Homo sapiens: one gene and its partners. The protein of the gene in region 1 purifies or fractionates together with the protein of each later gene. This does not show direct contact. Each region holds a gene or a part of one and is shown on either strand. Other genes may lie near its edges. The genes, in order: WDR36, UTP15, AATF, MPHOSPH10, RP2, GNAQ and GNA13.

Region 1 (3,500 bases):
ATAAATTTTAAGATTATTTTTAACAATATCTAAAATAACTTTTCTTAGAATTAAAAAATAACAGTGGTAATAACATCTTTGTTTTGTTTCTGACTTAAATGGGAATATCTTGTACTTTATAGTTACAAGACTGATAGCTTTTCTTTTATATACACTTTTTATTAAGAAGGATTCATAGCTATGTATGTTCCCCTTTCCCCCATCCTTAGGATTAATAAATAAAAAGAGAGTTAAACGTAAAGGACTTCAGAATACCATGTCAGTGAGACTTCCACCCATCACAAAGTTTGCAGCAGGTAAGTAACTTCAAACTGTGTTTTGAGAAGTTCTCCTTTGTCATTTATTTCCTACTGTATGCTGTTTTATTTTCTGTTTTAATAAATGCTTTTACAAATATTAATAAGCATTCAGAAGGTAACCCCAGGTGCATGCTGGTCTTGTGTGAAGACTAAAAATGAGTTATTTTAAATGTGAACTTCTTATCTATTAACATCAGGCTTTGCTCTTCTGTATAACAGGTATTAATAATATTTGATTTTATAGCCTTTTTATTCTGTCATATGCCTGGTATAATGAAAGTCACTAATGTAAAAAGAACTGGAACAGCAGAGTATGAGAACATAGAGCTCTGACTAATTAAGATCTAAGAATACTGAGGTCTTAGTATACTATGTCATTTGACCTGTGCCACTTTCAAAGAAGTGATTTTAAGAAAAATATAGATAATGGGTTTGTTGCGTGAAATCTATCATGGGAAATTACTGTAGAGGCACCATTTCTATTTGAAAGTTGTTATTATGACCACCTTTCTGTTTTCTCAGAGCTTGAGTCATGTTTCTAAAAACATTTGAATCACATCACACATCTGCTTAAAATTTTTTAGTGGCTTCTTAACACCTTTAGAGTGGAATCTCATCTCCTTAACATGACTTTCAAGACCCTTTGTAGTGTGGTCCTGATTGCCTTGCCCTACTCCTATCCCTCCCAAGAAGATACTACACTTACTTGCTGTCCTCCGTTTTGTTCATTTTTTTCTTGTGCATGTTATCCCCCCCAGGTAATTTCTACTTGTTCTACTACTCCATCCAGAGAGCCATTTACTTTCCCCAAATCTCCTGAGTGGTCTTATAAGACACTGTCATACTTTATTGTAATTTCTTCTGATTAGAATCTCTTGTTAGGTATGTTAATTAGCTTGATTTAGCCGTTCCACAATGTATACATATCACAACGTTATGTTCTATGCCATAAACACATAAATACACACATTTTTTATTTGTCAATTAAAAAATAATCTCTTGTTAGATTGGAAACATATTGCTATCAGATATTACCTGTTTGTTTTACCATTGTATCCCTAGTGTCTGAAATATTGGATGCCTAATAAGTAATAAATGAATAACAGAATGAAAAGTAATTTGATTTATGATTTTCATTACGTTTTAGAGGAAGCTCGTGAAAGTGACTGGGATGGTATCATTGCTTGCCATCAAGGTAAGCTATCTTGCTCAACCTGGAATTATCAGAAATCTACAATAGGCGCTTACTTTCTCAAGCCAAAAGAGTTGAAGAAAGATGACATAACTGCAACAGTAAGTGAGCTTGTTTATAAGAGTATCTTCTCTTTAAAACTTTCCTATGGAAATCTTGTTATACTCAAGGTTTCTCATCATAATATTGACTGAAAAAACGTAGTTTAACATTTTAAAGCATTGCATAACCCAAAGCCACAAAAATTTGCTCCTGTGACTTCTAAGAGTTTTCTAGTTTTAGCTCTTATATTTAGATTTATTCTCTCTGAATTGACTTTTGTGTATGGTATGATAAAGGGGTCCAAATTCATTTTTTTACATGTGGATATCCAGTTGTCCCAGCACTATTTGTTCAAAAGACTATTCTTTCTCCATTGAAAGATCTTGTTTCCTCTGCTGAAAGTCATTTGACCATGTATGTAAGAGTTTATTTCTGGACTCTGAATTCTCTTCCATTGATCTGTATGTCTGTTCTTATACCAGTACCACACTGTCTTGATTTTGATAGCTTTGTGGTAAGTTTTGAAATCAGGAAGTGTGACTTCTCCAGGTTTTTTGTTCTTTTTTCAAGATTGTTTTGGCTCTTCTGGTCCCTTGCATTTCCGTATGGATTTTAGAATGAGCTTATCAATTTCTGCAAAAAAAAGCAGCTATGATTTTGATAGGGATTTCATTTTGATTTTATAGATCAGTTTGAGTGTTGTCTCTGATCTATGAACATGGGGTGTTTTTCCATTTGTTTAGATCTTCCTTAATTTTTCAACAATATTCTGTAGTTGTTTGTATATAAGTCTTACACTTCTTTGGGTACATTTTTCCTAGTATTCTTTCTAATGTTACTGAAGTAGAGTTTTTTTGTTTTGTTTTGTTTTTGTTTTGTTTTGTTTTGTTTTTTTATTTTGGATTGTTCATTGAGAGTGTATCAAAATGCAGTTGATTTTTGCATTATTGATCTCATATCTTGCAACCTTGCTGAACTTATTAGTTCTAATAGTTTTTAATAGATGCCTCTGCTTTTGAAAATGCTTATTAAAAGTGTAACTCAACATTTGACCCTATTTTATACAAATTGCATTGTAAGTTTGTATATTCTATTCTCTGTAGTATGAAAATCCAGTCTTAAGCTTTTATATAATTTTCTAAACCGTAAAGATTCTATCTTACGCTCCCGTAGGGACATTTACCTACATAGTTTTGAATAATGGTTGTAATAGTAGTGGTAATTATAATCACAGGTAACATTTTCTGTGTGATTACTTTGTTCCAGGCTTTCTGTCTGGCATGGATTATTTCATATTTTCCTTACAACAGTCCTACAGCATGGTACATTGGTTAGCTGCTTTTTATGGACAGTAAAACAGGCTTTATGAGCAACATGCCTAAGATCAATGAAGCGAGTAAGGGGCAGAGCTGGGATTTGAACCTAAGACAATTCATTCTAGAATCTATATTCTTATAGCCCATAGGGATCACTTATAGAACATTTAGTATGTATGTATACTATGATATTTAGCTGGAGTTGAGTCATTTTTCTGACAGTCTCAGCTATCTGGAGCAAAGCTAGTAACCAATAAGTAATAAGCAAAAATACGTATAGAGAGCCTGTGCACTAAAGTACAATTTGTTACTCAAAGATAACATTCACGGTTTATTTATTTTTGCTTTGTTTGGCTTAGATAATACATTAGAATGAATAAATTAGAAGAAGAGAATGCCAGGAGCAGGCCGACTAAAAACAATAACTCCCCTAAAAAAATGTAAAGCAGGACAATGTAGGGCCTGTATTACTTGCAGGTTATAGCATACAAGCTCCTTTAGTTTCTTGATTGTATAACTATACAACATAGCATAAACATTTATGAATTTTTCAAAATAGGTCAGCTTAATGTTTGTGTTTCATTTAGGAAGATAAAATGCTTTTTAACCATAGTAATTTCCCATCTAAAATACTTTTTTTAAAAGAAATCT
Region 2 (3,500 bases), about 38 Mb from region 1:
TTTTGCTGGAATTTATGTACACTTCACAAATATTATTTAATGGTCATAACAGTTCTGTGAGGTAGGAACTGTTATTACCAATGACCCAGGAAGTGGTGCATCCAGGATTTTACCAGGCAGCCTGGCCTGGACTCCCTCACTCAGCCTCCATGCTTTGTGGAGTGTCCAGAGAAGAATGCTTTTCAGATCTTTAATATGTTGAATCTGTGGGCAGAATATCCAACTAACGATGATTTCTTTTTATAGGAGGTCGTTATGTTAAAGTCTGGGACATGTTAAAAGGAGGACAATTGCTAGTATCTTTGAAAAATCATCACAAAACCGTGACATGTTTATGTCTAAGCAGCTCTGGACAGAGGTTACTCTCTGGCTCACTGGATAGGTTGGCATTTTAATTTTTTTGTATATTATTATTAGTGTACACCTGTTTACTGCTTGAGGAAATGAGTTATTTCAGCAATATTTGTGATAAGTATACAGATAATGATTTCCAGGAGAAAAAAACCTGTTGAGTTGAAAATAGTTTTGACCTTTTGTTTACATATAGCTACTTCTTTTCTTTTCTTTTTTTTTGAGACAGAGTCTCACTCTGTCACCTAGGCTGGAGTGCAGTGGTGCAATCTCGGCTCGCTGCAACCTCCGCCTCCCAGGTTCAAGTGGTTCTCCTGCCTCAGCCTCCTGAGTAGCTGGGATAACAGGCACGCGCCACAATGCCCGGCTAAGTTTTTTATTTTTAGTAGAGACGGAGTTTCACCATGTTGGTCAGGCAGGTCTTGAACTCCTGACCTCGTGATCCGCCCACCTCAGCCTCCCAAAGTGCTGGGATTACAGGCGTGAGCCACCACACCCGGCCACCCATAGCTACTTATTTTCTCCTTTGACACAATTTGTTTTAACTTGTATACTTAAACAACATTATTGAACCATTTGAATGATAATCTTTCAAATAATGTTATTCTATAAACCATCTTTTAAAATCATTATTGTACATTCATATATTTTGAAGTTTTTTTTTTTTTTTTTGAGACAGAGTCTTGTTCTGTTGCCCAGGCTGGTGTGCAGTGGCACAATCTGGGCTTACTGCAACCTCTGTCTCCCAGGTTCAAGCGATTCTCGTGACCCAGCCTCCCAAGTAGCTGGGATTACAGGTGTGCAGCACCATGCCTGGCTAATTTTTGTATTTTTAGTAGAGACGGGGTTTCGCCATATTGCCCAGACTGGTCTCGAACTTCTGGCCTCGTGTGGTCTGCCCACCACGCCCTCCCAAAGTGCTGGGATTACAGGTGTGAGCCACTGTGCCTGGCCTGAAAAGTTTTTTAAAAATTAGATAAATTAATTTTTTTTTTTTTTTTGAGATGACATCTCGCTCTGTTGCCCAGGCTGGAGTGCAGTGGTGGGATCTCAGCTCACTGCAACCTCTGCTTCCCGGGTTCAAGCGATTCTGCCTCAGCTTCCTGAGTGGCTGGGATTATAGGCGCTTGCCACCTTGCCCGGCTAATTTTTGTATTTTTAGTAGAGACAGAGTTTCGCCGTGATGGCCAGGCTGGTCTGGAACTTCTGACTTCAGGTGATCCACTCACCTTGGCCTCCCAAAGTGCTGGGATTACAGGCATGAGCCACCACGCCTGACCTAAAAGTTAGATAGCACATTTTATTTAGCCTAATATCTAATGTAAAAATAAAATATATATTACATATAAAATATAATTTCAGTATGTAATCTATGTCAAAATTATTAAGATACTAGAAATAAATTAAGCATCTAAACATGTGCACTATGATACAATAATCATATTTTAGGTTGGTACAGTGGCTTACACCTGTAATCCCAGTGCTTTGGGAGGCTGAGGTGGGAGGATCACTTGAGGCCAGGAGTTTGAGACCAGCCTAGGGAATATAGTGAGACCCCATCTCTACAAAAAATTAAAAAAATTAGCTGGCCACAGTGGTACACACCTTTAATCATAGCTACTAGGGAGGCTGAGGCAGGAGAAGCACTTAAGCCGGAGTTTGAGGTTGCAGTGAGCTGTGATAGTACCACTGTACTCTATCCTGGGTTACAGTGATACCCTGTCTCTAAAAAAAAAAAGATAATATTTTATAAAAATTACTGTCTCAGTTTTTAAATTAAAATTAGATAAAATAAAAAATTTAGTTTCTCATTTTCACTAGCCACATTTCAAGTGGTCAGTAGCCATGTGCAGCTAGAAGTATGGCACAGTTCTAGAATTTACATGATTTATTATTAATTTTTTTTTTTTTTGAGACAGGGTTTTGCTCTGTCGCCCAGGCTGGAGGGCAGTGGCATGATCTTGGCTGACTGCAACCTCCACCTCCTGGCTTCGAGCGATCCCCTCGCCTCAGCTTCCTCAGTAGCTGGGACCACCGGCACGCGCCACTGTACCTGACTCATTTTTGTATTTTTGTTGAGATGGGGTTTTGCCATGTTGCCGAGGCTGGTCTCAAACTCCTGAGTTCAACAGATCCTCCCACCTCAGCCTCCCAAAGTGCTGGATTACTGGCGTGAGCCACCGTGCCCGGCTTACATGATCTATTTTTTATTATTTTATTTCCATATTTTCATTTTTTTCTGCTCTTATGAAAAACTTTAGTTTTCAGCATGTTAATTAAAAAGTATACAGTCATCTCTTGGTAACTGAGGAGAATTGGTTGTGGATGCCCAAGTCCCTTATTTAAAATGGCATATTTGCATATAACCTACACACATCCACTGTATACTTTAAATCATGGCTTGCTTATTTGTAATACCTAATACAATGCAAATGCTATGTAAATAGTTGTTACACTGTATTTTAAAATTCTGTATTGTTTATATATTTATGGATATTTTCAATCCATGGTTGGTTGAATCTGCAGATGTGGAACCTGCCATAAGAAGGATTGACTGTACATATTTTAAAAGCTAGAAAATATTTTTAATACAAAGGAATTTTTTATGTAAATACATGGCAAGTTTACACATGTTACTGAAATCATGTTACTCGGCAATTTGGGACTTGATTCTTAGGTATGTTCCTAAAAGCTAAGTGTAAATTGGCTCTATTTGTGGTGGTTTCAACCAAGAGTGATTTTTGTTCCTCAAGGAACGTTTGACAATATCTTGAGAAAGTATTGTTTTTTATCACAACTCATGGTACTTACCATATAGGGGATAGAGGCCAGGAAGGCTGCTAAACATCCTACAATGCACAGAACAACCCCCACAAAAAAGAATTCTGTGCCCCAAAATGACAGTAATTCTGAGGTTGAGAATCCCTGATCTTTGGCTTCATGTGTACTTTCTTTCTTTCTTTTTTTTTTTTTAATTTATTTTTTTAGAGACAGGGTTTCTTCAAGTTGCCCAGGCTGGTCTTGAACTCCTGGGCTCAAACAATCTGCTGTCCTTGGCCTCCCAGAGTGCTGGGATTACAGGTGTGAGCCATCACACTTGGCTTTGTGATGTGCTTTCATTGATAATTTTTTCTTTTTTTTTTTTTAAG
Region 3 (3,500 bases), on another chromosome or scaffold:
CTTTAGCCACACATGATACCAACACATTCATAGCCACACAAATTTTAAGAGGGAATCTAAAGAAAGTCATTTGCATACTGCAAATATACCACAGAGGATTAGTCTCTCATCCAATACAATTAACTCCATGGGAGTTATTCTAAATGACTCTCCTACTGTCATTTTAAGCCTGACTCCTCTGCACCCAGTTGAAATCTACATCTGTACCTTTCATACAGACTTAAGAATCTGCACTGAATCTTAAAGTCCTTGGGCGAAGAGAAGCAATGGTTTTAAAAGTTAAACACTAAGGGAGAAAAACCCTGAATTACGATAATAGAACTATAAGTGCTATATGCAGAGAAAGAGAAACAGAGATTAAAATTCCAAAAATCTTCTGAGAGAAATTTAAGAGAAGACGCTAAGATAAACTAGTTCTGCTAATCATCTGTCAATAATCCAGGTTTGGCCTTAAAACTTGTTTCTTCATAAAAATTAGCAATGATTTTGTAGGTGAGGCATGGTGGCAATAGAGATATTTCATCAAATCAAATAGCTGAAGCCTGTGGGCTTCAGTGGTTCAAATGAAGAAAGAGAAATAAATTCCTCTGAAAGCAGATCTCTTTCTAATTTCATATGTTTATGTAAGTAGGCACTGGAAGAAGTAAAACAAATTTATAAAAAATATTCACTTCCAAAAGATGAATCTTTATTGCAAAAGGGAAAAGGATATCTCAATTGCAATTAGAAAACCTCCCATGATGTTTTTTCATTTGCTTATTTTGGACATTATTACTACAGCAATTATGTTTAAGAATGCAGGGACCAGAAGCCGCTGGTTTTATTATCACTAGAAAACAGCAAGCTATTTCTCTACCCTGTTTATCTGATTGATTCCCAACATCTTTCTGGCAGCCAATCTATCAGTTTATCTCTCCTACTTCATCACAGTCACTTCTGGCAGCTAAATACAAGATCCAAATCCAGTGTTACACAGACATATGACACAGTAAACCTATGTAACACTGCTGCTGTGTAAACAGCTGCCCTTAAGGCTAAGCAGAAATGGGCTTCTGGTTCCTAGTCAATATTCTGTCAAAAGCAAGGAGTAGGGGGAGTGAGGGGGAGTGGTTAATAATAATAAAGAAGAAGAAATAAAAGAGAAAGAAAAATAAAAAGGAAGGAAAATAATGGAATAACTGCATTTCATTGCCCTTACCTCGTTCCAGCCATACAAAAGATTACAACAACCGTTCCTGGTTTTCCTAATTTTCTCAGATCCCTTGAGACTGGGCAATCAGGGTCACCGGGGTGCAAGTGCTCATGGAAGGCTGCCCCAGCACAACAGGGTGATCCTCGGGAAGAATATGCCCTTGCCAAAGGCTGGAAATTGGAGCTCCCCACTGCAGTGGTCTCTGCAATTCCAACACCAAGTTGGTGCAGCATTTACTTTCAAACACTTTGTGTACTATACATATTCTGAGCTGCATTTTCGCACACAAGTGCTTTGCATAACTATTTTTACTCATTCATGACTTGGAAGATTGTTTTATTGGTCTATCTAGCTAGGTCTAGTTTATTCAGTCCAATATTTCAGAAGATTCTGTTGTGTCCATGGTAAGAAAAAGAAAGCAACAACAACAAAAAATACAGTTAAACAAATGATTCCCGTGGCTATTACTATTTTCCCAAAGCTACCACTATCACTGGGTTTAAATTTAATTAGAAAATTGCTTTCAAAACAGTTGCTAAAAAAAAAAAAAGAGATTTGAGATATTGGCTGAAGAATTCAATTTTACTTCTGATTTTAATTTGTATAGCTTTAACTTTACAAATAAACCTTTCTACTAAAATTCAAGTTTCTGTTACAATTATTAGAGCTTTTTATTTCAACAATGATGATATAGTATTTGTAGTAATTTTCTATGTGATTTGGAAAATGGAGAGAGAGAAAATGTTTTTGCTCTAGTCTGTTAAAATTCCTCCAGATAATCAATTCGGAAAGGCTTGATTATACCTCTAGTTCTAAGGGAAAATCATAGATACAGTTAGGTTTTCAGGTTGGCCACAGAAACCTATTTAACCCATACCAATATACATGAGGAACAGGACTAATAGTACTATTAAGCATCTAATCAACATTTATAATACTTTCATTAGAAAAAATGCATGCTAGAAACAGTTAAAAATGGCAGATTGAACACATTAGTTTATCTCTTCTCAACCCCTCTAAGAGACAGTTGAGGAATAAAATAAATATTAACTCCTAAGAAAAAAGAGAAAAGGAGCACTAATGTGTGCATATTTTCATAAATTTTTCCAAGACAGTAAGGAGATGGAGAAGTTATCACCCAAATGCCCAGAGTGAATAAAGGTGAAGATGAAGCTAATTGTATTAGGCCGCAGAATTCCTGTGAGGATCAGCTCTCTGGCAGTTACCACGCAAGGTGGGAAAAAGAGAAGGAGCAGAACCACTTGGGCCTCCTCCATTATCCCACACAGCCAAGTGACTAACCACCTCTACCACCCACCTCCTCTCGTGAGAGAAAAGAAATTTTATTCTTTGGAAATATTGAACCACAGAAGCTCCAGAATAGAGGATACCAGGCAAAGAAGGCTGGAATGAGGTACAAGGGAAAGGCTCTATGTTAATCTCTGAAACCTCTCCCTTTCTCCCACCTCATTTGTAGAAAGCTAACATCCCATTCTATAATTTCCTAGGCAGGAAAGCAGAGGAGCCTTTTCTGGAAGAAACTGAATGGTGTCTGCCCTCCCACCCCCAAAATTAGATTTCAAAGTTGCTATGGTCTTCTGCATGTGTCTCCCAAAATCCGTATGTTGAACACTTAATCCCCAATGCAACAGTATTGGAAGGAATGGCCTTTGGGAGGTGACTGAGTCATGCAGGCTCTGCCCTCGTGGATGGGATTAGGCGTCCCTCTAAAAGGGCATGATGGAGGGAGTCTGTCCCTTTTGCCTTTCCACCTTCTGCCATGTGAATTCCCTCAGAAGAATTCAGCATCAAGGCACCATCTTGGAAGCAGACAGCAGCCCTCTCCAGACAACAGAAACTGCCACCTTCTTGTTCTTGGACTTTACAACCTCCAGAACTGTGAGAAATAAATTTCTGTTCTTTTAAGATTACCTAGTCTGTGGTATTTTACTATAGCAGCACAAACAAATAGATATATAGAAAACAAAGCAAACAAATACAAATTCTGACATCCAAGGCTACTCTAACAAAGAGGTCAGTTCACAGCATAATTATATTTAAAGAAGCCAAAAAGCTCTGCCCAGGTTTCAGAGATTCCGAATAATAAACTTTAATGCTTTACTCTTAAATATGAACAGACAGTTAAGGATCGCCTGCATCTGAGGAAATCCTCATGCACAAACCAAACAAATAGAAAAGAGACTCAAGGAAGCAATGCAGAGAACAAAATAAATAATTAAAAAGGAGAAAAAAACCCCCAAAACTTACAATGAATATCCCAAGAGTGGGAGAGGGTATACTTTGATAA
Region 4 (3,500 bases), on another chromosome or scaffold:
TTTCTAGGAGAGATTTAATTGTAGTTAGAAGATTTAGTGATAAGAAATATTGTGCTCTATCTTATCAGTTATAAATGAATCTGTACTTCCATTCAATTTATGTTCCAGTTGGTCTTATAATTTTGTGGTAGTGTTATTAGTTGCCATTTTCACCTAATAATTATTTAGTTATTAGTTTGGTTATTAGTTATTAGCTTGTAGTGTTATTAAGTCAGAAAGTAATATATACATACAATATACATGCAAATCTATATGCATGTGTTAATATATTTTTCTATCCCTAATTAATAGTTTTTAATATCTTTTTATTTTAGTCAGGTAAAAGTTCCAGAAATCTGAAATACAAAGATTTTTTTGATCCAGTTGAAAGTGATGAAGACATAACAAATGTTCATGATGATGAGCTGGATTCAAACAAAGAAGATGATGAAATTGCTGAAGAAGAAGCAGAAGAACTAAGTATTTCGGAAACGTGAGTATTTTGAACCATCCTTTACATTGTAAGCTGGAATTGCCCAATCATGTGTGTGTACTCGTAGTTATCAAATGTGTTTGTCTTAGCAAGTTCTATTCTCTAATATCAGATATTCTCAAGATAGCCAGAGGAAAGTCTCTGACTGTAAAGGGACATTAGAGATCACTTAATGAAGAAAAATATCTCTGGTAGTAGCAATCAAACCTTCCTTACCAGGAACTTTGATTTGGTTTTGTGTCAATAAAATCCTGTTATTTTTGTGAGATAAGAGATTTGTATTATAGATTGATGAATAATTTATTTTCTATATGTTGGACACTTTTTTTTCTGTTTCTTACATAGCGTTTTACCTAAATAATACCTTTTGTTCCTTAATAACTGAATGATTTTGGAAGTTCTGAGTATTTGGTTGCATTAGGTATATAAAATAAGAACTTTATTAAGGGAAAATTTGTTTCCTTTTGTTTTTCTAATGGAAAGTAGTATATTTCTTTTTATAAGAGTTTTGGTATTGTAGGGATGAAGATGATGACCTTCAAGAAAATGAAGACAATAAACAACATAAAGAAAGCTTGAAAAGAGTGACCTTTGCTTTACCAGATGATGCGGAAACTGAAGATACAGGTGTTTTAAATGTAAAGAAAAATTCTGATGAAGTTAAATCCTCCTTTGAAAAAAGACAGGAAAAGGTAATTAGTAATTTAAGGAATTTTTAATATACTTGATATTAACCATCCTTTGAAAACTATTAACCATCCTTTGAAAACAAATATCTTGGCCAGGTGCAGTGGCTCACGCCTGTAATCCTAACACTTTGGTAGTCCAAAGCAAGAGGATCGCTTGAGCTCAGGAGTTCAGAACCAGCCTAGGCAACATAGTGAGACCTTGTCTCTACCAAAAATACAAAAATTAGCTGGGCATGGTGATGTGTGCCTGTAGTCCAGCTACTCTGGTGTCTGAGGTGGGAGGATCACTTGAGCCTAGGAGGTTGATGCTGCGGTGAGCTAAGATTGCATCACTGCTCTCTAGCCTGGGCGGCAAGCAAGACCTTGTCTTAAAACAAAAAACCAAAAATCTTGCCATATGGAAAGCATCTGATTTGCAAAATCAGTGCCTGCATTTCAGTTTGGGGCCTGTGAGTAAAATAGTTGCTTCTGCTGGGCGTGGTGGCTCATGCCTGTAATCCCAGCACTTTTCGGGGCTGAGGCAGGTGGATCACTTCAGGTCAGGAGTTCGAGACCAGCCTGGCTAACATGGTAAAACCCCATCTCTACTAAAAAAAAAAAAAAGTAGCCAGGTGTGGTGGCGGGCACCTGTAATCCCAGCTAATCGGGAGGCTGAGGCAGGAGAATCCCTTGAACCCAGGAGGCGGAGGTTGCAGTGAGCCGAGATGGTGTCACTGGACTCCAGCCTGGGCGACAGAGTGTGACTCTGTCTCAAAAATAAAAAAATTTTTAAAGATAATTGTTTTTTTCTCTGTCCCTAATATCTTTATATGTATAGCATGTCTCTCCTGATAAAGCTGTCCTGTGAGCATCTTAACTGTTTCCACTGTTTTGGAGGATACCACATATGTCTTTTCTTTTTCTTTTTCTTTTTTTTTTTTTTTTTGAGACAGAGTTTCACTCTTGTCACCCAGGCTGGAGTGCAGTGGCGTGATCTTAGCTCACTGCAACCTCCACCTCCCAGGTTCAATCAATTTTCCTGCCTCAGCCTCCTGAGTAGTTGGGATTACAGATGCCCGCCACCACGCCCAACTAATTTTTTTGTATTTTTAGTAGAGACGGGGTTTCACCATGTTGGCCAGGCTGGTCTGAAGCTCCTGACCTCAGGTGATCCACCCACCTTGGCCTCCCAAAGTGCTGGGATTACAGGCGTGAGCCACTGCGCCCAGCGGATACCACCTATGTCTTTAAGGTGCTCCACAGATTTTTGTGAGTGCCAAATAGCCAGAATTTTAATTTATACCATCACAAACATATCTTTCAAAGTTGGTAAAAATTGTTTCTTTGTGTCATGATTTCAGACAAGTGAAATTTCATTAAATTTTTGTAGATGTAGTCTGGCTCTAATAATTTGGCTCTATCATTTATTTACCTTAAAATTTTTATCACAATAAAAATGAGAATAGGGCCAGGCACAGTGGCTCACACCTGCACTTTGGGAGGCTGAGGAGGGAGGATTGTTTGGAGCCCAGGAATTCGAGACCAACCTGGGCAACAGGGCAAAAGCCCGTCTCCACTAAAGATTAAAAAAGTTAGCTGGGAATGGTAGTGTGTGCCTATAGTCTTTGCTACTCGAGAGGCTGATGGGGGAGGATCTCTTGAGTCCAGGAGTTCAAGGCTGCAGTGAGCTATGATTGCACCACAGCACTCTAGCCTGGGCAACAGAGCTAGAGACTGTCTGAAAAAATTAAAAAAAAAAAGAGAACAGGCAGAGAATGAAAGATACCAAGAATATCAAAAGAATTGTTTTTAAAATCTAAGAATCTGAATTAAATCCATGGTTGTCAGATTGTCCCCAGAAGATAGAGAAATTCTAAGGGAAAAAAAGCACCATTATAAAATATCAATGAGTTAGTATCCTTCCACCCCACTCCTCCCGCCCTTCCCCAACAAATAAAGAAAGAAAGGTTTGGTTTTATTGTGAAATTATATCAGACCTTCAAGTTAAGTTTCAATAAATCAAAAATAATTTATTTCAATTTCCACATATAAAGAATAAAGTAGAACTTTCAACCTTTTTTTTTTTTTTTTTGAAACTGTTAGGTCATGAAAACCCAAACCTGACAGAGGTAGCATTAAAACACACACACACACACACACACACACACACACACACACACACACACAGAGCACAGTCTCATTCATGAACAGTGATGCAAAAATCCTACAGCACAGTGGAAAAATGATGCCACACAACTGCATGAACCTTATTCTCTTGAATCAGTATTAGAAAATCTAGTATGATTCCTGACTGCAAGACATTAAGGAGAAAAAACATATAGTCACCTCCATATATGTCA
Region 5 (3,500 bases), on another chromosome or scaffold:
AAATGACTGTCCTTAAAGACAAATTAAATGGGTAAAAGGTCTTATCTAACAGAAGAATACAAAATTTTAAGCTTTGGTTAATAGATAATAAGTGTAGTGGAAATTTTTAAATTAACATCTCCCTTATATGTTATATTCCTGAGTTGTTGCTCAAATATCATAAAGAACTTAGTTTATAGCTTTATATAACATTGCATTTTATTTTTGAAAAACAAAAAGTATTGTTATTATTTGAAATGTGAATAATGGTGTTTAATAATATCATCATGGCCAGGCGCGGTAGCTCACACCTGTAATCCCAGCTCTTTGGGAGGCTGAGGTGGACGGATCACCTGAGGTCAGGAGTTCGAGACCAGCCTGACCAACGTGGAAAAACCCCATCTCAACTAAAAATACAAAAATTAGCCAGGTGTAGTGGCGCATGCCTGTATTCCCAGCTACTCAGGAGGCTGAGGCAGGAGAATCGCTTGAACCCAGGAGGCGGATGTTGTGGTGAGCCGAGATCGCGCCATTGCACTCCAGCTTGGGCAACAAGAGTGAAACTCCACCTCAAAAATAATAATAATAATAATAATAATATAATCATAACAGGATGGAGTCCCTTTAATTTAGCTTAACTAAGGGAAAAACTAATGCCGTCTGACCACTATTTGCAAAGATCATTTGTAAATTGTGATCAAAATTATATTAAATCTGTCACCAACTTTTATTTGCACCTTATGAAATCATGTTGATTTTGTAGTATTGAATGCCCTTATAAAAGAATTGAAATGATGCAGTGCTAATGGTTAGCACAAGGCCACGCACAGGGTGAGCGCTCAATATTACTAATTAATTTAAAGTGAAAATCTTTTAATGTATTATTTCTGCACCTTAACATGCAATTCAATGTAGTAGTTATTAACCCAAAAATATCCAAAAACATTTTAAACATGAAAATACATTTTAGTAACAATCATAGGAATGTTTACAAGTGGTTATTTTCAGTCTTAGTTTTATCAAAATAGAATTAAATTTCAGATTCCTTTTAAAAATAGGCCTATGAAAGCTGATTTCATAATAGCTGCTATATGTGATGTGGATGGCAGATTCAGTGCCTTCTCACAAGTTCAACCTATTGACACCTCCTGAACCAATTACTTTAGATTACAACATACCCCTTAAAACAGAGTTTCCCCTGAAGACTGAATCCGTGCATCTGAGGATTGGGTCCAAGAATGTGGATTTTTAAACAAGTAGCTCTCCTCTGCTTCCTGGTAAATTATTATGATCAGGTAGATTTGGGAAACAGTGCTTTAAAGCAACCAAAATAATTTTATCATACTTGAACATTACTTGATATGAATGGCATATCTAATGAAAAATCAAATGTATCAAGCTTTTTAATAATCTGCATAGCTTATCATCATGCCTATTTCTTACCTAAAAGTCACAAGGTTTTGTTCCAATTCTCTTGATAGCCCACAAGAGCTAATAAAAGTTATCACCTTTTTAAAAACTGCTGGTGATTGGGCTTCTACAGTTTTAGCATTGCATATACCTTTTCTTATCAGGAAGCAGAAGAGTCATATAGCAGTTGTATTAAAAAACTAAACAATGTGTAATTTATTCAAATAATCATACTACTTACGAAGTAGTCTTTAAATAGCTATACCAACATCTGTTAGTAGAGTTACTTGCCAAGCTGGTTATCAAATGCCTATTTCTTTAAAAAATTCAATTTACAAAGTATTATGTCAACTCCATGTACAAAATCTCATTTGCCATATAATGCAACTAGGAAGCAATTATATAACTGGATATGTGTACATAAAAATGTGCATAGGTTCATTCTAATTGATCGACTAGTAACAAATCCCTCTAAATTGAAAAAGGTAAAATAAGCAATGATATGGAGTCTCAAAAAAAGTATCATGGAGCACTGAGGAAAGTTTAAATTATTAGAGATTTGAAAGAACATTTAAATAGGATTAAAATAATAAACTTTTAGCTACTTCTGTTTTCTAATAAGAATATCATATGCAGAGAAACAAAACTGCAAGCTTATTAAAATGGGTTAAATAGCTTTTAAGCTGATTAAAACTACTTAATTTAAAATGAATTATTTTTGAACCTCAAGTAAATGATGTAATACTCAACAATTTATTAAAAAATAAACTTTAAAAGTTTTAGCATTAGTAAAAACCATTGCTAATACACAAAAGTGTATTATCAAATTCTATATTCACAAGTTGGGAAAGGCTTAATACCAAGTCCTGGTTCCACATTGCACTTCATATTCCCATCTGTATATCAGCAAAGTTGTAGAAGCTGTCTACATCTCCAGATGCCGTCTCCTTGCTTTCAGATACAAACATCTATTTTAAATAGAAAATTAAAAAAAAAAATCAGTACCAAGTACTTCAGAATGCCAAAGCCCATGTTCTCCACAGAACAAAGTTCCAAGCTAATTATTCAAAAGAAGTTCAAGTACATCATTTATAATGACAATATTTAATCTGTAGATTTTCTTTAGAATTCATGTAATACACTTTGAATAGCTATAATGTAAATTAAGCTCTTTTGGAAGCACTTATATAATTAAGGTCTCTGCTTTCATAATACTTGAGTTGTATTTTATTACATCTGGACTTTTACAACACTCAATATTACGGAAGCTACTGAATAAGAGTCACTTAAAAAACTCTTTGTTTCTTCTATTTTCTAATAATAATCTCAGTAGTCTGAGCAGCAAAACTTGAGATTATCCCTTTCAAAGCTGCTAAAGATATATTATTATTTTTTATTTTATTTTATTTATTTTTGAGACAGAGTCTTGCTCTGTTGCCCAGGCTGGAGTGCAGTGGTGCAATCATGGCTCACTGCAGCCTAGACTTCTGGACTCAAGTGATTCTCCTGCCTCAGCCCCCCAAGTAGCTGGTACTAATGGTGTGTACCACCATGCCTAGCTAGTTTTTTTTTTTTTTTTTTTTTTTTTTTTACTTTTTGTAGAGTCTCACTATGTTGCCCAGACTGGTCTTGAACTCCTGGGCTCAAGCAGTCTTCCCGCTTCAGCCTCCCAAAGTGCTGGGATTACAGGTGTGAGCCACCACACCCAGCCTGTTATTTTTAAATAAACTATCTGCTAAACATCAATGAAGCAATACTCAATAGAACCCTTCTAAAGTAGCTTTTACAAATGTCAGCAAGGAATTAGAGCAGATGTGGGTTCTATTCTAGCTTTATCGTAAACTAGCATATGATGCTGACAATTTAATAAACCTCTGTGGGCTCAGTAACTACACCTGTAAAATGAGAAAGCTGGATTAGATAATCTCTAAATCATTCAGCTCTAAAAGTCCAAATTCTAACCATTTTATCTCTCAGTTTCCTTTTCTATTCAACCTGGTATTTTCCCTCTCCCTTAGTACTACTGTGATGATAAAATGAGATCAAAGACAAAGTACTTTAATTTTTGTAAATTCAAGGAATCATAAGCCAAATCAGATGATAAAACCAAA
Region 6 (3,500 bases), on another chromosome or scaffold:
GTTGACTTTATCTTTCTTTTCCACAGACTCCTCTACCACTTTCTGATATTTTTCTTTCTCTTCTTTACTTCTCTGTTAGGACTCATTTTTGTCCTTCCCTTTCCGTAGACAGCTTTGGTGTGATGGTGTCACTGACATTCTCATTGTGTCTTCCCTCCTCTAGCTATCTTAATGACTTGGACCGCGTAGCTGACCCTGCCTACCTGCCTACGCAACAAGATGTGCTTAGAGTTCGAGTCCCCACCACAGGGATCATCGAATACCCCTTTGACTTACAAAGTGTCATTTTCAGGTAGTAACTGAGTCCATGAAACCTATTTCCCAGCTTTTATGCCTTGAGTACATTTGGTAAACTCTATAAATACTGGAATCATGTGTAGGCTTCAAAACAAGATAGGCTTTATACCAATTATTATCATTAGTTATACAAATAAAATGACATATCCCTGAGGGAGGAAATAACAGAAAGATGTACTGGAGGCCGGGCGCGGTGGCTCACGCCTGTTATCCCAGCACTTTGGGAGGATAAGGTGGATGGATTACCTGAAGTCAGGAGTTTGAGAACAGCCAGGCCAACATGGTGAAACCCCTTCTTTACTAAAAATACAAAAATTAGCCGGGCATGCTGGCGGGCACCTGTAATCCCAGCTGCTTGGGAGGCTGAGGTGAGAGAATCACTTGAACCCAGGAGGCGAAGGTTGCAATGAGACGAGATTGCGCCACTGCACTCCAGCCTGGGTTACGAAGCGAGACTCCATCTCAAAAAAAAACAAAAGAGAGAGATGTACTTGTACTAGAACATTTGGCATTTCAATTTAAATCACTAAGAAATCAATAAAATCTTAGTTTTGCTTGTGGTTGAGTAAAATCGGTTAGTAAACCATTGGTCTTAACTGTAATTTTTTGGGCAATCATTTTAACTGTAAGGACAATGGATATGTTTTTAGAATTATGTAAGCTATGAATGATCATATGATGCTGTCAATCACAGAAATTAAGTAGTGTCAGAAGTTTTCATGCTGGTGTTTTCCCCACGTCCTCTGGTACCAATGCAAAATTTTTCAGTAGCAAGAAAAATATGTGATGTTTTGTATTCATAAAATATGTTGCTTGAAAAATTTTGAAATACATGATTTTGAAAATGGGTTAATTAACCTAGTCTGTATTTACCTAGCAAAATAGAATGAAAATTTATTACCTCATCTCTCACTGCTGGTGTTCTGTCTGGATAATACTTCAGCAGAAGCATTCTGTTGTTTTGTTTTTAGGATGAGAAAAAATAAACAATACTGATGTACTTTCATTCAATCTCTTATTATGCAATCACTCAGTTGTACTTTTAGTTAGAATACAAACTACATGGTGCTTTGAGAAATGAGAATGTGTCTTGGAGTGTGGAGAGTTGATTTTCTAGGAGCGCCCACCCCATTGAAGATGGATGTGTGCAATATTGGTTATGAAGCAGAAGTTATTATCTCCTGTGTCACTCTGCCAAGTGATTCTGATTAGCAGGCCCACCTTCATTCCTTGCCGTGACACTGTGTTTTCTTCTAATCGGCCTCTGTACCTGAGGTCAAATCTGGCTGCCATACATTGTTCTAATAGATATTGCCACAAAGTAGGTGGCATTTTGAAACTATTTCTGAGCCTCAGTTTTTTAATCTATAAAATGGTTGTATTGCATTAGATGATCCTCAGGGTTCCTTGTAGCTCCAGCATTCTATATTACTTACGTTTTAAGTCTATGGTATTTAGAAATCTTTAATTTGAGACACCCAGATTTCCTTCCTCCATGTTACAAAATATTTTTAGAAAACATAGCATTTCATGGGGATTTTCATCTCCTTATTGCTTCGCAATTAGTGGATTCTGAAACCAGATTACAATTACATGTTGTTTTTTCCACGTTTTGTACACTGGCTTTTGAAGTACATTTTTTGCCACTACAGTAAAAGTAATGACTTAGAAGTATAATTTTCCACCACCATCAGAAGCATCTTTTACGGCCCAGTGTGACAGAGTTTCATGGAATGAGGATTTCACGTAAATTAGTAGCGTATTATTCACACCTTGGCATTAGGGAAGAGCCAGCATTTTAATACTTCCGAAGATCTAAGAATTCTGGCTTTGATGTCCATAGTACGTGGATCTCCCTGAATGCATTGTTTTGCCCCTTAGATCTCTCTCCTGTGCCTTACTAGGCTTACGAGTAGTGACTTAGAAGATCTTAGTTCTTGTTTAGGTTTAATGTCAGGAGGCAGGAAAACACCAGGAGCAACTGCAATTTTAAACAAATGTTTAAAGAGCCCTACTTTCAAATTTTTGTACCTAAACCGCTCATTCTCTGAGACTATTTTTTTCCTGTGAACATTGTATACATTTCATTCAAGATACGGATTCAACAATTTGGAGAAACTTTGACTCAGTGCCAAGCATTGCTAGATATTTTCAGACATACATTGTCACTCAAATTAATTGATGTCAGTGTTGGTTTCTGAGCAGTAATTCAGCACAGAATTGATGTGTTAAAAACAAATGATTGAAATGGTTCACATGATGGCCTCCGTCTTGTACCTTGTAGTATCTTCATTCACTCACACTTTATTTCAAGTAAGTGACCTGACATGACTGGACCTGTGCCAAATTCTTATCAATATTGGGAAGAAAAAAATGCCCAACATGCCGACCCTGCTGATAAAGGATGAGTGGGGTCGTATCTGCATTTAGTGGAAGCATCATACCACCCATATTGAATTGTATAGCATCTCACATATTTTAAGTATACTTGTAGTCATATCTAGCATCCATAAGAAATACATGAGGATCTTTTTTCCGATTTTATAGGAAAAGAAACTGAAGTTCAGTATTTGCCAGTAGGGCTTAACACAAAACTCATTCAGTTTTGGACTCTTCAGCGCTTCATTAAATAAAATACCATTTTGCTTGGCACAGATAAGGATGTTTTTTACAGTGTTACAGTTTTCGTACACACTGGTAACTTTCTTAAAACCATCATGATGTGTTACCCAGAATGTTTTAACTTTGAATATTAGGTAATAAGAAATTAGTAATTATTCAATAAGTATTAATTGAATTGACTTGGATGATCATCGTCATTCAAGAGAATATTTTCCCTAAGTTTGTAAGTAGTGCTATATTTATGTTGACTTTTTAGTTTTACTTTATATGTTATTAATATGAGTATTGTTAACCTTGCAGAATGGTCGATGTAGGGGGCCAAAGGTCAGAGAGAAGAAAATGGATACACTGCTTTGAAAATGTCACCTCTATCATGTTTCTAGTAGCGCTTAGTGAATATGATCAAGTTCTCGTGGAGTCAGACAATGAGGTAAGTGTTCTTTAGACAGGCAATGGATTATCATTTTATTATCTGATACAAGTAAATGATAGAAAGTAGGGTGTGGGGAATGGAGTGAACTTACTTCTTTGCTTTCTTGAAATTTGATTTTAGGACTTTTAAAATAACCAAAAATAATCCT
Region 7 (3,500 bases), on another chromosome or scaffold:
CCTCTGTAACGTCTCTTGCATTCATTCCCTCCTTTCCTCTATTTTGTGTTCTGCTACCTCTTGCTTGGACTCCAAGGCAGTCTTGTTCAAACACAGCATTGGTTTGCTCAGAAAGCTTTGGTGGCTCACCATTGTCTTCAGAACAGAGCTCAGCTTTTTTGTGGGAGTAAAGACTCTAGCTAGCTTACCTGTGATTCCAGCAATATATTTCATTAGGCCACTGGACATACTCTGTAATCTCTTGATTCCCACATACCCTAATTTTTTGCTTCTATAGCTCTCATCATGCGTAGTCCCTCTGCCAGAATTATTCTTTACCCTATCTGTTACTAGGTCTTACCCTTCACTTAATGTAGTGATAATCACACTAAATGTGGCCCATGGACCCCATGGACTGGAATGCTTGTTAAAACAAACAAGCAGATGCTCAGACTTTATACCTGAGGATCTGATTCTGGATTCTGGGATGGGACCCAGTGATCTGTGTTTTCAGCAAATAGCCATAGGTGGTTTGGATGAATTTGCTCCATGCCCCCTCCCTTTCCCCAGGAACAGTGCCTTAGGGGCTGTGTCTCTTTATTTGAAGCATCTCCAGTCTTCTTGGCTAGAATGGAGATCTCCGTGTCCTTTGCTTTCCCTAGCATGCTTACTCCTGTCACTCCTCACAGTACCCATTATGTGTGTTAGAGTCACAGCTTTCATGTGTGGCTGTCAGTCATGTAGAAGTCCTTTGGTATGCCTAGTTTGTCTTTTTCTCTCCTACTAGCATAGTGCCTGACACTTTTATTTCCTCGTTTTTCAGACATTCTTAATTACAAAGATGTTCTAAAAAAATAAAATACCTGTAATCCCAGCTCTTTGGGAGGCTGAGGCAGGCAGATCACTTGAGGTCAGGAGTTGGAAACCAGCCTGGCTGACATGGTGAAACCCCATCTCTACCAAAAACCAAAACCAAAACCAAAAATTAGCCAGGCATGGTGACATGTACCTGTAGTCCTGGCTACTCAGGAGACTGAGGCACGAGAATCGCTTGAACTCAGGAGGTGGAGGTTGCAGTGAGTGGAGATCATGCCACTGCACTCCAGCTTGAACGTCAGAGTGAGACCCTGTCTCAAAAAAATAAAAATTAAAAAATATGTAATATAATTTAATTCTACATTAAGTTCCTTCTGGGAAATATGGATTATTTCTATAATAGTTTCCTAATTTTCTAGGAAGTGGACAGTTCTTGTGTAATTATAATTTTTATTTGGGGGGGTTGAAATGTGTTTTGTTATGTTTAGCAGCATATTTTTGAATTTTGGATAGGAAAGGTAAACATCAGAAGAAATAGAGGTTAGCAGATAAAATAACTAAAATTAAAATTAACCTTTTCGTTTCAACTAATGATTTGATTATTAAACTTATTAATGCACATTAAAAACTGACAGGTTTTAAGGCCCTACATGACTTAACATTTTGCCTAAGATGAACAACTGCCCTTTAATCAATTTTCGGGACAAGGGATAGGGTGTTGATAACACAGCTTAGGTTTTTAGCAGACTACTCATTTGTTAGTAATAACTTTGGGTGTAAACATGAATGTTTTTCTTTCTAAGTTCCCAAAGGTAAACATTTCCTTTTTTGGTTAGTTCCATCATGGGTCAGCTAAATAGCTTACTGTGGAAAAGAAAAATACAAGATTCACATTCTCGTTATAACTTAAGGTACCTTTCTAGTTATTATAAATTAGCATACTGAGGATAATAGATTGTAAGAAGTGGCCTGTTTTAGTACTGAATTAAATATTTGAAATACTCTACTCTGGCTGTACATTCAACATAGCCTGCCACTGCACTTTTGAGTTACCCTGTCTTTAGAAAACCTTCTTATGTGACAATAGCTAGATAATTTGGTAACTCAGATGAATAAAGAGATGGGAGTCAGGGGTTGGCTGGATGATACAATTGGAGATATGGATGAAAACTGACAAAATGGCTAGGAGTCATTTCCAACTATTTTTTTTTGTTTAATTTATATTCACTTATTGAGAAATAAGGCAACACTTGTTACGTAGGACAGGACAGTGTGTGTGACAGTGGGAGGAACATCCCACAGCTTCCTACTTTCTGTAAACAGTTTAACATTGTCAGCATTAATACAACTTCCTGTAATGGCCAGTCTGTCTTTGCAATTCCTGAAACCAAAGTGTTTTTGCTAATCATGGTACCTTCAGTTAGACTTAATTCTTTTCTTTTTGTGCTTGAGGTTACTCTTCTTGAAGCCGATAAGATAGTGTATTCATTAACACAGAGATTTACTCCCTCAATCTGTGTAACAAAGTAACCATTTAGCTCCATGATTGGCCTGTAAAAAGGGGAGGTCCAACTAAGTATTCTAGAAACTTCAGTTTCAGCTAATTTTTTTTATTTATTTATTTGCACTGCAGCATGTATTGGAAATATAATACAATCAAGAGTCATTTGAAGCTCCTGTAGTCCCAGCTTCTGGGGAGACAGGAGGATTGCTTGACCTCAAGAGTTCAAGTCCAATGTGGGCAACATAGTGAGGACAGCCCCCTCCCTCTTAAAAAAAAAAAAGAATCAGAGTCATTTATTAATTAATGCTAATTTGGATTTGCTTTAAATATTAAAGAATTGCTACTTTCAGTTGTAAAATACTATGTTTCTTTTGGATGATTGGTCCATTTTCTCTATAAGTATAGTCAAGCAAGGACTTTGAGTTGCTAAAAACCTATTGGTTATCTTTTGATTCTAGGATTAGTGTTAAATATTTCATCCCATCTAAAATAAAGATTATATATAACATTAGAGATAGTAGAGGTTTTTATCTTACTTTATTAATATTTTTTAGAGACAGAGTCTCACTCTGTTACACAGGCTGGAGTGCAGTGGTGTGATCATAGTTCACTGTAACCTTGGGACTCCTGGGCTCAAGTGATCCTCCTGCTTCAGCCTCCTAAAGTGCTGGGATTACAGTAGTGAGCCACCTCACCCAGCCAGAGATAGTAGAGATTTTAAAGTTGAGTTTAATTTCCTTTTGATGAAATTGATCAGATGTCAGAGTGGTTACATTTTATCCAAATCTTGTAAACCCAGAGCTTTATGTTTATTTACGTTAAAAATGAAGTTTTTTTCTTTTTAATTAATTTCTTTTTTAAAATTTCCGTCAGTTCCTTTAAGTTTACACTTATAGTTTTAATACAACTTTGTGAAGTGTGTGTGCATGCACACATAGGTGGTATCACTTGTATTCTATTATGTTGAAATTTTCATGTTCGCATTTTTTTGGGTGAAAACTTGACTGGCTGTAGGATGTCTGGGTTCTTGGTGCTAAAGCTTCCGGAATTGGAAAATACTGTGCTGCTTTCTATATTACCTTTTATTGCTAAACAAAGCTAGGGGCACAATAATTTATGATTCTCTGAAAATGTTTATTAAACAACTAAGAGATGGAACAAGTAAATAGTTTTGTTATGAAAAGTAGACTTTAGTTTCAGA

The links.
Region 2: the proteins of WDR36 (region 1) and UTP15 fractionate together in Homo sapiens (co-fractionation; one large-scale study listed by BioGRID). This does not show direct contact.
Region 3: the proteins of WDR36 (region 1) and AATF purify together in Homo sapiens (affinity purification with mass spectrometry; 2 studies listed by BioGRID, with this or other methods). This does not show direct contact.
Region 4: the proteins of WDR36 (region 1) and MPHOSPH10 fractionate together in Homo sapiens (co-fractionation; one large-scale study listed by BioGRID). This does not show direct contact.
Region 5: the proteins of WDR36 (region 1) and RP2 purify together in Homo sapiens (affinity purification with mass spectrometry; one large-scale study listed by BioGRID and IntAct). This does not show direct contact.
Region 6: the proteins of WDR36 (region 1) and GNAQ purify together in Homo sapiens (affinity purification with western blotting, with the first as the bait; one study listed by BioGRID). This does not show direct contact.
Region 7: the proteins of WDR36 (region 1) and GNA13 purify together in Homo sapiens (affinity purification with mass spectrometry; one large-scale study listed by BioGRID and IntAct). This does not show direct contact.

Annotation. Positions count from the first base shown.
Region 1 is NC_000005.10:111,105,848-111,109,347, forward strand, and holds part of WDR36 (WD repeat-containing protein 36), read left to right. Parts: intron 1-209; coding exon 210-296; intron 297-1,446; coding exon 1,447-1,592; intron 1,593-3,500. UniProt on the Homo sapiens protein: Part of the small subunit (SSU) processome, first precursor of the small eukaryotic ribosomal subunit.
Region 2 is NC_000005.10:73,572,243-73,575,742, forward strand, and holds part of UTP15 (U3 small nucleolar RNA-associated protein 15 homolog), read left to right. Parts: intron 1-246; coding exon 247-382; intron 383-3,500. UniProt on the Homo sapiens protein: Ribosome biogenesis factor. Involved in nucleolar processing of pre-18S ribosomal RNA. Required for optimal pre-ribosomal RNA transcription by RNA polymerase I.
Region 3 is NC_000017.11:37,014,954-37,018,453, reverse strand, and holds part of AATF (protein AATF), read right to left. Parts: intron 1-3,500. UniProt on the Homo sapiens protein: Part of the small subunit (SSU) processome, first precursor of the small eukaryotic ribosomal subunit.
Region 4 is NC_000002.12:71,133,634-71,137,133, forward strand, and holds part of MPHOSPH10 (U3 small nucleolar ribonucleoprotein protein MPP10), read left to right. Parts: intron 1-314; coding exon 315-472; intron 473-992; coding exon 993-1,164; intron 1,165-3,500. UniProt on the Homo sapiens protein: Component of the 60-80S U3 small nucleolar ribonucleoprotein (U3 snoRNP). Required for the early cleavages during pre-18S ribosomal RNA processing. Part of the small subunit (SSU) processome, first precursor of the small eukaryotic ribosomal subunit.
Region 5 is NC_000023.11:46,878,543-46,882,042, reverse strand, and holds part of RP2 (protein XRP2), read right to left. Parts: intron 2,358-3,500; coding exon 2,274-2,357; 3' UTR 1-2,273. UniProt on the Homo sapiens protein: Acts as a GTPase-activating protein (GAP) involved in trafficking between the Golgi and the ciliary membrane.
Region 6 is NC_000009.12:77,794,312-77,797,811, reverse strand, and holds part of GNAQ (guanine nucleotide-binding protein G(q) subunit alpha), read left to right. Parts: intron 1-163; coding exon 164-292; intron 293-3,219; coding exon 3,220-3,349; intron 3,350-3,500.
Region 7 is NC_000017.11:65,046,741-65,050,240, reverse strand, and holds part of GNA13 (guanine nucleotide-binding protein subunit alpha-13), read left to right. Parts: intron 1-3,500. UniProt on the Homo sapiens protein: Guanine nucleotide-binding proteins (G proteins) are involved as modulators or transducers in various transmembrane signaling systems.